Regions from separate parts of the Homo sapiens genome. Here region 2 is linked to region 1. Evidence: fine-mapped expression QTL. A gene starts in region 1. The other region holds a variant in brackets. All regions are shown on one strand. Distances are between the middles of the regions.

Region 1 (5,377 bases):
ACCAGCCTCTGTGTACATAAAGACATAATTATAGGCCAAACAACTCCTTTGATGTAAGAGTATAGAACGTCTGGGGGGAAAGGGGCAAATAAAAGAAAGAACAATCTTGCTTTAATATACAAACAAGGTCCATGGAAAGGTATTGCCAAACAAGCAAATAAGCCAAACAAACAAATGAACAGAGTGTTGGGAAAGCAGGACCCAGGCCGACTGGGCACCCAAGATATCCCGGGCCCTCTGAGAGCATTCTAGCTGACTTCATTGGGCATTTCTGCTTTTCTTTCAAAGAGTTCACATGTGTTCTCATCAGAATGGCTGTATTCACATCCCCTACCTGTTCTATGCAGAAATTCTCAGCATTTCCAAAGGGGCCTGTTTACTTCTGGAATCAAAACCCCAAAGAAAGGGGGGGTTGCAAAGGGTTTGAATGGCTCCTCCTGGGAAGCAAATCTAATCGGGAATGGAGCTGAGCTTGTAACCCAGCATCCTGGATGCCTGTCCTGTGATATAACCCCTGAAACACCACTCTTTCTGTTGGGGCCAACTTTATTAGAGAAATCTGTTAATTGGGGAACGGAGCGGGAGAAGGGAGAGAGCAATGGGATGTTAATATGATTTAACACTTGATGGGCTCTGAAAACAAATAAGGAGGGGGCTTCGGGCTTTAGCTTGGCACATTCGTCGTTCCACATACGTGTTACCAAAATGAATATATGCAACTAAACTATATGCGAGACTCTGGGGGCACAGTAACACAGACTTTGTGAAACAAAAAGGCATTTCTCCTGCTTCCACTGTGTCTCTTGTGGTGCCATTGTCTGATGCTAAGAACTCACATAATAACAAAAAACAATGCCCCTATGATGGGGGGAAAACTTGATTTGGCACCAGCCGTGGTGTTTTCCATGGGAATGATGGTGGGGGCTGTGGCCGACTGTGGGAATAGTGCAAATCAGCACTTTTTTGTAGATTTTCTTCAAGCCATTGTTTATTTTGGCTTTGGTCAGATCCGTGGCCCAGCTTGAAGATTCCCACTGGGCTTTCTGAAACTCGCAGACCTATGAGAGATGGAACAGGGATAAATAAATAATTACAAAACACCCTTCCCCCACCATGGCACTCATGCATGCGTGTGCCTGTCTTGGTGGTGCATGTATGTTGCAGTACTATACATCTGACCCATGCCACCAATGGGCAATTAAAGAGAAAGCAAGGTTTTCTCTGGGCTTAGCTGGTTCATTGTCTCAGTACCATCTTTCATTTGGGGCAAGAGAGATCAGAGCTGTTTCACACAAGGGCCAGTTTTTGCAAAATGGCATTGGAGAAAGCTTGTTTGAAACTGTGCATACATGAGGTCTTCCTAACATTTTTAGATGTTTACAGGCATTTCAACACGAATAACTCAGGTTGTGGTTCTCACAGAAGCAAAAAATCAGTAATTGTTCTAATAATGGAAGATAAACTTTTTTTTTTTTTTTTTTTGAGACGGAGTCTGGCTCTGTCGCCCAGGCTGGAGTGCAGTGGCGCTATCTCGGCTCACTACAAGCTCCGCCTCCCGGGTTCACGCCATTCTCCTGCCTCAGCCTCCGGAGTAGCTGGGATTACAGGCATGCGCCACCACGCCCGGCTAATTTTGTATTTTTGGTAGAGACAGCGTTTCTCTATGTTGGTCAGGCTGGTCGCGAACTCCCAACCTCAGGTGATCTGCCCGCTTTGGCCTCCCAAAGTGCTGGGATTACAGGCGTGAGCCACTGCGTCCGGCCATCAAGAGTTTTTATGACAATGTGTATGAAGCTGCCTTTGAGTAGGGTGGCTGCATCGCACACCTCCAGGGGGCAGCATTGTCTTTGTCCTCTATATAAATGGTTCCCCTGGAGGAAAACTCCAGGTGACCTTGCAAAGTAACCATATTTAGATGGGCTTGTCATAGAGATATTTTCCAAGGAAGTGCAGAAGAGTCTTGTTCACTACATCTTGTTCCTTTCTTAGATACAAGTTACATCAGAATAGGGGACTCAGGCTCTTGCCTGGGTCTGGATTGGAAGAAAAAGAGCTTACCATGGGCCAGAGTGTGCTAAGTCAGATACAATACACAAGCATCTTATCACACATTTCAATGATGTGGAAACTTAGGCCAAGAGAGGTTAAGGGACTTGTCCAAGCTCACACAGTCTGTATGCAGCAGAGCTGGGATTTGAACCCTTTCCTATGGCACCCTAGAGCAGCCTTCAATCATCCCCTGACACCTCCAGTACTTCCCAGGGCTGGAAAGCATCCATGATTGCGGACAGCAGTGGCAGTGAAACAATGTCAGCTGGGGTAGGGGTTTTCAGAGGCAAAAGGTGGAATTCAGCTGGGGAGGGGGGTGGTTCCTGAGCTGCCACTTCTGCCTCTCAAATTAAAGGGAGCCAGGTGTGGAGGCATCCTGGTGTGAGCTTTGCACAGCTGAACCAAGGCTGGGCAGAGGAGTGTGGAGAGGGATGCTGACATCTCCTCCCACTTCTGGAAAATAACTTTGCATTTGAAGGGAGAAAGGCATGAGTAAATCTGTAACTCGGATTTGGACGGCCTGGGATTTCATTTGACTGTGTGAAGGCACACACAGGTGCCTCGCAAGTGTGTGCGTGATTACGTATGTATGTGTGTCTGTGAGTAGGAGTGTTTGTGTTGGGGGTGGGGGGATCTTCTGGTTACACACTGGTTCCCTTCTTCCCATTTGGATTGGGGAGCTTTTATTTATTTATTTTTAAGTCATAGCAGCCACCATGTATGGGGACCTAACTATGTGCCAGGCATTGTGCTGGACACTTTCTGAGGCATTATTTTTCTGTGAAAAAAGTAGTTTGTTTTTATGCAGGTGCACCCAGAGACATCAGGTATTTTTTTCCATTCCGGTTAAAAGACAGTGTTCTACTCTGTGGTAAGCCTTGGGGAGAGGCAGGGAAGCCTGCGGGGACGGGCAGGGGCGGTCCCTGCCTCGCTCGCTAGTCTCCACCTTTTATTTTGACCGGTCCGATGGCGACAGGCTCGCACTAGGACCCAGGCGCCAGAGTGCCTCCGTCTGTCCTGTAGGTTCATTCAATCTCCCATACACACAGACTCACAGCGAGACCGACACACACTCCCATACACTCACACACACAACTGCAGGCAGCGAGGCTCGGGAAGTCAGGCCGGCTTTTCGCCCCGGCGCCTTCTCTGCTCCAGCCGGCCGGGTCTCCCTGGGGGCCCGGAGCTCGGCCGGGCCGCGCAGCCCCGTTAGAGGACGAGCTCGGCGGACCCCCGCTCCTCCATGGGCAAACGCGGGCGGCCGCGCAAGGAGGCGCGCTGCGAGGGCGCGGGGCTGGCCCCCGCCGCGCCCCCGGCTGTGCCCCCCGCCGTGGCCGCGCCCCAGCCCCCGGCCCTGCCCGAGGACCCCGCTGGGGCCAAGCCCAGGTGCCCCTTCTCAGACATTTTCAACACCAGCGAGAACTCGATGGAGAAGCACATCAACACTTTTCTGCAGAACGTGCAGATTCTGCTCGAGGCCGCCAGCTACCTGGAGCAGATCGAGAAAGAAAACAAAAGTAAGTTTGGGGGCCCCTGCTCTTCCTCGGCGCCCGGTTCTTTCTTTCTCGCCCACTTGGGCGACCCCTGTTGCGAGCTCGGCCCGTCCCCCCCCCGCCCAACATACACATCCAGCCCTTGGCAGTAAAGCCGATGACACCGGAGAAAGGACACGCACGCACAAAGCTGCTAAAGATGTAACAAAGACGGGCGAGGGGGAGAGGGGCCTGTCGGTGCGTCGGTCTGTCCTCTCCGGCGGGCTGGGGCTGGGAGGATGGCCCAGCGGAGGAGCGGGGGAGTGTTGTTGTTTGCTGACAACTGAGCCGAGAGCTCATCTCTTTGAGGTCGCTTTTCTTCCTTTTTTTTTTTTTTTTTTCCGGAGCCTTCTCAGGCAGACAAGTGTTGTTTTTCTGTTGCTCGTTCCTGGGTGGGGTGGGGATTAGAAGCCGAAAGTTGGAAACCATAGGCAGAGCTCAGAGGTTCCAGAAAGAAAACACACAGACACACACTACAACAATAACAACCAAACAGCTCTCCACGGCGTGGGCTCGGCTCTGTCTCTCTCTCTCCCTCCTACTTCGCCTTTTTCCTTCCCTCTAGCAGCAGGACTGGGCTCAGGCCATCACGTCTACGGACACAGTCCCCCTGCACGTCCGTTGCCGTGGGGTGCCACCGCCGCCCCCCCCCCCCCAAAGAAGGAGGCCGGCGGGGCCAAGCAACGCCAGCAGCTCGCCCCGGACACGCCGTCCTGAGCCCGGGAAACTTGGCCGTGGGGACGCGGCTAGAAGGAAACTTTGGGATCTTTGAGAAACAATAGTTGGGGAAGAAGGTGTGGGCTGTTCTGTGCTTTTTCTTTATTTTCCGGGAGACGGCTCTTGAGTGAGCGCACAGGGCAAGCAAGGCAAACGCCTTCCTGGTCGATTTCTACTCCCCCCACCCGCCCACCCCCAGATTCACGTGGATAGTAGTGCGTGGGTGGGGGTGTGCTGGGAACCCCACCCTGGCCTGGCTTCTTTTTTGTATTTATTTGTTTCATTTTTGCCCCTACCAGCCAGGTCACCCAGCTTTCCCCAGGCAGTCGACTCAGCGCCCTAACGGGGGCACGCGTGTGCAGCGTATCCAGCACCGTCCTCAGAATAATAGCTGTGAAAAGGAGGAAGGGAACTAGGCAGACAGACCGACAGATAGGGGGAAACCGGGATGTTTAATGTGTCCGAACAAGTAGGAAGATCAATGAGGCGCGAGTGTGTGTGTGTACGTGTGCGCGTGTGTGTGTGAGAGAGAGAGAAAGAAAGAAGAAAGGTCCCGATTGCAACGTGTCAGATCTTGCAACCTTCCCCCCACCCAACACAACAACCCTCAGACACAAAAACACCATTGCTGACTGATACCCCAGGTCTTCAGGGTTAAAGGAACCGTGTGTTGGCAGCGCAATTGTGCAGACGCTGTAAGGCCAAAACGAGGATTTGTGTTGTGAGGTCGGTGGTGCGTTCTTTTCTTTCTCTTCTCGCCTGTTTTCCCGGAGTGCCTGGGTTGCGAGAAAGGCGCATCGCAGGCTGTGCAGCCGAATCGCTTCGCAATTATTCATGCTGGTCGGAGGGGGATGGGGCGCGGGAAGCTATGTGTGCATTTGTCTGGAGGGTAGTTTCTGAAAAGCCAGAGCTGGTGGGGAGCTGGGTGAAGACGTGGTTTTGTTTGGTGTGTTTGCTTTTGTTGCAGGGGGGAGGGGCGCGATTTCTTCAGCTACCCCCATCCCCGGCTACCAGTTCTCTGGAGTCTGTCCCGTGGCGTTGGCTCTGACTAGGGGTACACCCCATGAGGGCACGTTGGC
Region 2 (5,377 bases), 75 kb after region 1:
GTATTTATATATTTTTATACACACTCACACATGTATATTCATTCATGTTTTCTCTGCTAAAGGAGGAATCAGTTTTATTGTTTGTACTGGACTATACACAAATGTAAAAATCATTTCATCATTTCAGAAACTTGAAGAAGCTGAAAGAAAAAGCCAGCACCAGCTCGAGAATTTGGAACGAGAACAGAGATTTTTAAAGTGGCGACTGGAACAGCTGCAGGGTCCTCAGGAGATGGAACGAATACGAATGGACAGCATTGGATCAACTATTTCTTCAGATCGTTCTGATTCAGAGCGAGGTAGGCAGCTTGCCTCTTCTCTAATGAAATACTAAACATCTCTGTATCTGGATTTAGGGAAGGTATGTTGGGAGGCACTGTATTTGCTTTCTTTCTAGCCAACAGAGTAACATTGTAGGTTTTATGCAATCATAATATTGTCTACAGCAGTGCCAGTGTGGACTATAAAACTTTTTGTTTTTTCCTTGAAAAAAAATATATTTATATATTTATATTATAAATTATATAATGTCCCTCAATTTAGGTTTGTCTGATGTTTTCAAATGATTAGATTGAGGGTATACAGTTGGGGTAAGGAATATCACAGAAATGATGTTGTGCCCGGTGGCTCATGCCTGTAATCCCAGCACTCTGGGAGGCCAAGGCGGGCAGATCACAAGGTCAGGAGATCGAGGCCATCCTGGCTAACATGGTAAAATCCTGTCTCTACTAAAAATACAAAAAATTAGACGGGCGTGGTGGCAGGCGCCTGTAGTCCTAGCTACTCGGGAGGCTGAGGCAGGAGAATGGCGTGAACCCGGGAGGCGGAGCTTGCAGTGAGCCGAGATCATGCCACTGCGCTCCAGCCTGGGCAACAGAGTGAGGTTCCGTCTCAAAAAAAAAAAAAAGAAAAGAAATGATGTTGTGCCTTTCTCAATCCATTGTGTCAGGAAGATACACGATGTCGAAGTTTTTACTACTGGTGATGTGAATTTTTATATGTAGATTTTAAAGTACAACACCCTTTATTTCTCTTTCCATCTATCCTAGAATATTTATCTTTGACAGAGTTAAAGAACAGAAGTCAACCAAAAAAGAATGGTTTGAATTTTACTGATTGTTCTTCCCAAAGCTTCCACCACATCAGGCTTCATATCACATTAAAAGATCCCAGAGGTGAACACTGGTGATTTGAAGTCTTACATTTGGAGAAAGGAGCTCATGAGCTCTTTAGGATTCTAAAACATGAGACAAGTGACAGAGTTTTTTTGTTTGTTTGTTTTTAGGACTCTGATTTTGTTTTTTGTTTTTGACTTTTTTAAGTGGAAATTTTCAAACATACTTAGAATAGAATAATGAACTCCTGTATACCCACCATTCAGTTTGAATAGCTGTCAACTTGTTTCATCTGTTCTTCACTACGCTCACCCTCAATATTTTTTCTGGAATGCTTTAACTCAAATCCCAGATAACATCATTTTGCCCCTAAATACTTTAGTATGTATCTTGAATAAATAGGATTTTTAAAAATGTAATTATAATGCTATTATAATACCCCACAAAATTAATTCAGATAATCTTTTTTAATATCATCTAATACCCAGTCTGTGATACATTTTCTCCAGTTGTCTCAAAAATGGCATTTTACCATTGGTATGTTTAAATCAGGATCCAAAGGCCACATTGCATTTGTTTGATGTGCCTTTTAAGATATTAATCTATAATAATTTTTTCTCTTCCCCCTACACCGTTTTGGTAGAAACAAAAACTGATTTCTACATAACATCTCAAAAAGACTTCTTTGGCAGAGAAAACATGAAGGAATATATAGGTATAGATCTGTGTGTTGTATATATGTACATATTTTTTTAAACATCAAGAGACTGAGTCATTTTTCTTATAGAATTTCCTACATCCTAGATTTGGCTGGTTGAATCCTCATGGTGTCATTTAACATGTTATGTCCTTTATATTGACTGTAAACTGGTTGGTAGATGCAGAATACTTCATAGGTGGTGCTTTGTACTTCCTGTTATGTCAGTATTGTGTGTAGTTGTTGTTGCACTTTTAATATTAATCAATAGGTTCAGGTAAGGTCATTTTAATACATTTATATAAATGTATAGCCTTTAACTTAACAGTTTTAGCAATTATTGCCCTTATTTCATTGGGTGTCATAAAATAGTGATTTTCTAATTGTGTCATTCCTCTTGTATTTATAAACTGTTTTTCTCCTATAAACATTTTCTCATCAACTTTTCGGTTATCCTGAAATAAAGTTCATACAGGGAAGGTGGGATAAATGCTTGGTCTTGGTTTTTGCTTTATCAGTTTTCCAAACAGAGTTGGTAACCTAGCAGCTTCCAGAAGTAACAAGTTTTGGTTTTACTATTTTTTGATTATATCATGAACTCATGTTTTGCTGTACTGAATGTGTTCCAATCCATTGCAGTCATCCTTTTAAATTCTTTTGAATGCTCAAACTGTCCCAGATTTGCTGAGTAGGAGCCTTTTAAATAGTTTTTTCATCCTTTTTAACGCAACCTTTTTAACACAACCCTAGGAGTTCTTGTTTTTCTGTTTTGTTATTTTTCTATGTAAAAGTTTATTTTTGTGTGGCAGTTTTCAAGAAAAGTCTACCAGAGGCAGTAGCAAGAACCTGAAGTACATGCTACATTTATCAGTAACAGTGAAATATAGCAGAAATAACCCTGACCTTGGTGTCCCAGTCTTTCCTCTATTGCTAACTAGCGGAAACCTCTTCTTAGGTCTTTAGGTTTTAGCTGTCCTTCCTGTTACCTCCTCCTTGTACCCACCCCAACTACCTCCAAATTTCAGAGAGGAGGGTGTATTTTCATCACTATAGCTCTCATTTTTTTTTAGTGTTCCCAGTGTACCTTACTTTAG[C/T]GGTACCTTACCAAGTACCATCCTTATCCTGAGCTGGCAACCTCCTTTTTGTAGTGTTATGGGGGCTTTTAGTTAACATCTGTGGTACACTTGGCTAAAGCAGTTTCTCATTTTACTTTGTTTTTTTGGGTTTTTAAAAAATTTTTTTAAACATATTTTTAAATTTTATTAAAATAGAGATGGGCCTTGTTGCCCAAGTGGTCTCAAACTCCTGGGCTCAAGCAATCCTCCTGCCTTGGCTTCCCAAAGTGCTGGGATTATAGGTGTGAGCCACTGTGTTGGCCATCATTTTACTTTATTTTGACTGAGTTCAGCATGCTCTTTTGGATAGTGTGCCTTGTTATTATCTTCTAGTTGTAGGTTGGATGAGTGTTCAGTGGTGCTGGGAAACAATGGCTTCTGAAGCAATTCGGATATAGAGCCAATATATGAATTCACAGATTATTTGGACAGCTGCCTACATTTTAAAAACATCTCTAGAATCTCTAAAACTTTTGAAGCAACAAGCCCTTTTGAAAAGTATATTCCTGGAAATAGCTTCACCCTGTCCTTTTGGCCTCACAAGAATCCACTTTTTTTTTTTTTTTGAGAGAGAGTGTCTCGCTCTGTCGCCTAGGCTGGAGTGCAGTGGCGTGATCTTGGCTCACTGCAACCTCTGCCTCCTAAGTTCAAGTGTTTCTGCTGCGTCAGCCTCCCAAGTAGCTGGGACTATAGGCGCGTGCCACCATGCCCAGCTAATTTTTCTATTTTTAGCCTAGACACGGGGTTTCACCATATTGGTCAGGCTGGTCTTGAACTCCTGACCTCGTGATCCACCTGCCTCAGCCTCCCAAAGTGCTTGGCCGCACCCGGCTGAATCCACTTTTTTTTTTTTTTTAAAGCAGTTGTGATTAGTGTGAACCCTTAAAAAGTCAGTGCCAAATGTGAAACATCAGGCTTTGAATTTAAGTAAGGTAACTGAAAAATCCTGGGTTTCACTCTAGCTCTGATGGGAGAAAACAACTTTTTAACTCCTTTTTGTTTTTAACATGTGTATTGATTTATGTATATTATTGATGATTGAATATCTAGTATTTAACAATTAAGATTTTTTTTTTTATTTTTAAGAGACAGGGTCTCACTCTGTCACACAGGCTGAAGTGCAGTGGTGAGACCTTGGCACACTGCAGCCTCAACCTCCTGGGCTCAAGAGTGATCCTCCCACCTTGGCCTCCCGAGTAGCTGGGACTACTGGATCACCCACTATACCCAGCTAATTTTTGTGTTGTTGTGTTTTTTTTGGTAGAAATGAGGTCTCACTTTGTTACCCAGGCTTGTCTCAAACTCCTGCACTCAAGTGATCTTCCTGCCTTAGCCTCCCAAAGTGCTGGGATTACGGACGTGAGCCACTGCGTCCAGCAACATTATCTATTGATAGCTGAGTCAAATATGTATTTGTGGTGTTTTTTTTTTTTAATGTTTGGCTTTTAAGTCTGTATACTACCACCAAAATGGATCTCACTATAATCTGAAGACTTTTAAGTCTCAGGCCCTTATTTCAAGCTATATTTGATGCAAGAAAATTAAATCTAAGACATATACCTCAAACTCTACTTTATAATGACTTGTTTGACTGACTAGTTGAAGATCTTTATGATGAATCCTAGAAGTCTGTTGAACTATCTGTAGAATGGCACCACCAAAGGCTTGGATGGGTAAATTTTCTAGTTTGCCTATATTAAGTTTATGCTCCTGCCCACCCTTTAAGGCAACCCTGATTAATAAACAGAACTGAGAATTAGTTTGTGGTTTAATGCAAAACAGATGTTTTTAAACCACTTGGGGGTTGGGACCTTTTAATATTAAGCACTAATTCCCAAATACGCCAAGTGCTTTAGGGAGGTCCAGACGGACTGGCGTCAAAGGATTTAGGAAATTTGCTGCCTAAATTAAGACCACCACTGTATATCAGACATTCCCCTTGGCAAAAAATATTCCTGTCTCTTCACCTTGTTCCTCTGTTCTCCAGACATCACTGATAATAAGCTTGTTGTGTAACATTTCTTATACCTCTTTTCCTCATGCTGTTAGTTTTTGAAGGTGCGCTATACTCGATAATTAATGTTCTTCTTTTTTTTTTTTCCTTTGGCAGAGGAGATTGAAGTGGATGTTGAAAGCACAGAGTTCTCCCATGGAGAAGTGGACAATATAAGTACCACCAGCATCAGTGACATTGATGACCACAGCAGCCTGCCGAGTATTGGGAGTGACGAGGGTTACTCCAGTGCCAGTGTCAAACTTTCATTCACTTCATAGAACCCAGCATGACATAACAGTGCAGGGCAAAATATTCACTGGGCCAATTCAATACAAACAATCTCTTAAATTGGGTTCATGATGCAGTCTCCTCTTTAAAACAAAACAAAACAAAACAAAACTATACTTGAACAAAAGGGTCAGAGGACCTGTATTTAAGCAAATACTTAGCAAAA

Direction of the effects. Alleles are on the strand shown, and positions count from the first base shown. SD is a standard deviation of normalised expression in the study named.
With allele T in place of C in region 2, the expression in atrial appendage of the gene that starts at base 3,089 in region 1 is lower (small effect, 0.19 SD a copy in GTEx).

What was found. PIP is the estimated chance that this variant, and not a neighbour inherited with it, causes the effect.
Region 2: its variant is the best candidate, but not a certain one, in a credible set for the expression of MXI1 in atrial appendage (GTEx, PIP 0.72).

The regions. Positions count from the first base shown.
Region 1 is chr10:110,204,517-110,209,893 of GRCh38, forward strand. It overlaps MXI1 (MAX interactor 1, dimerization protein), which reads left to right and starts at 3,089. Exons shown (of 6, transcript NM_130439.3): 1 at 3,089-3,566. The coding sequence starts at 3,293. RefSeq lists an enhancer at 1,170-1,670 and a silencer at 3,260-3,339.
Region 2 is chr10:110,279,787-110,285,163 of GRCh38, forward strand. It overlaps MXI1 (MAX interactor 1, dimerization protein), which reads left to right. Exons shown (of 6, transcript NM_130439.3): 5 at 128-299; 6 at 5,038-5,377. The coding sequence ends at 5,201. Among named protein-coding and RNA genes, the nearest start is that of SMNDC1, 22 kb to the right of the region's middle. The variant C/T (reference allele first, on the strand shown) is at 2,907.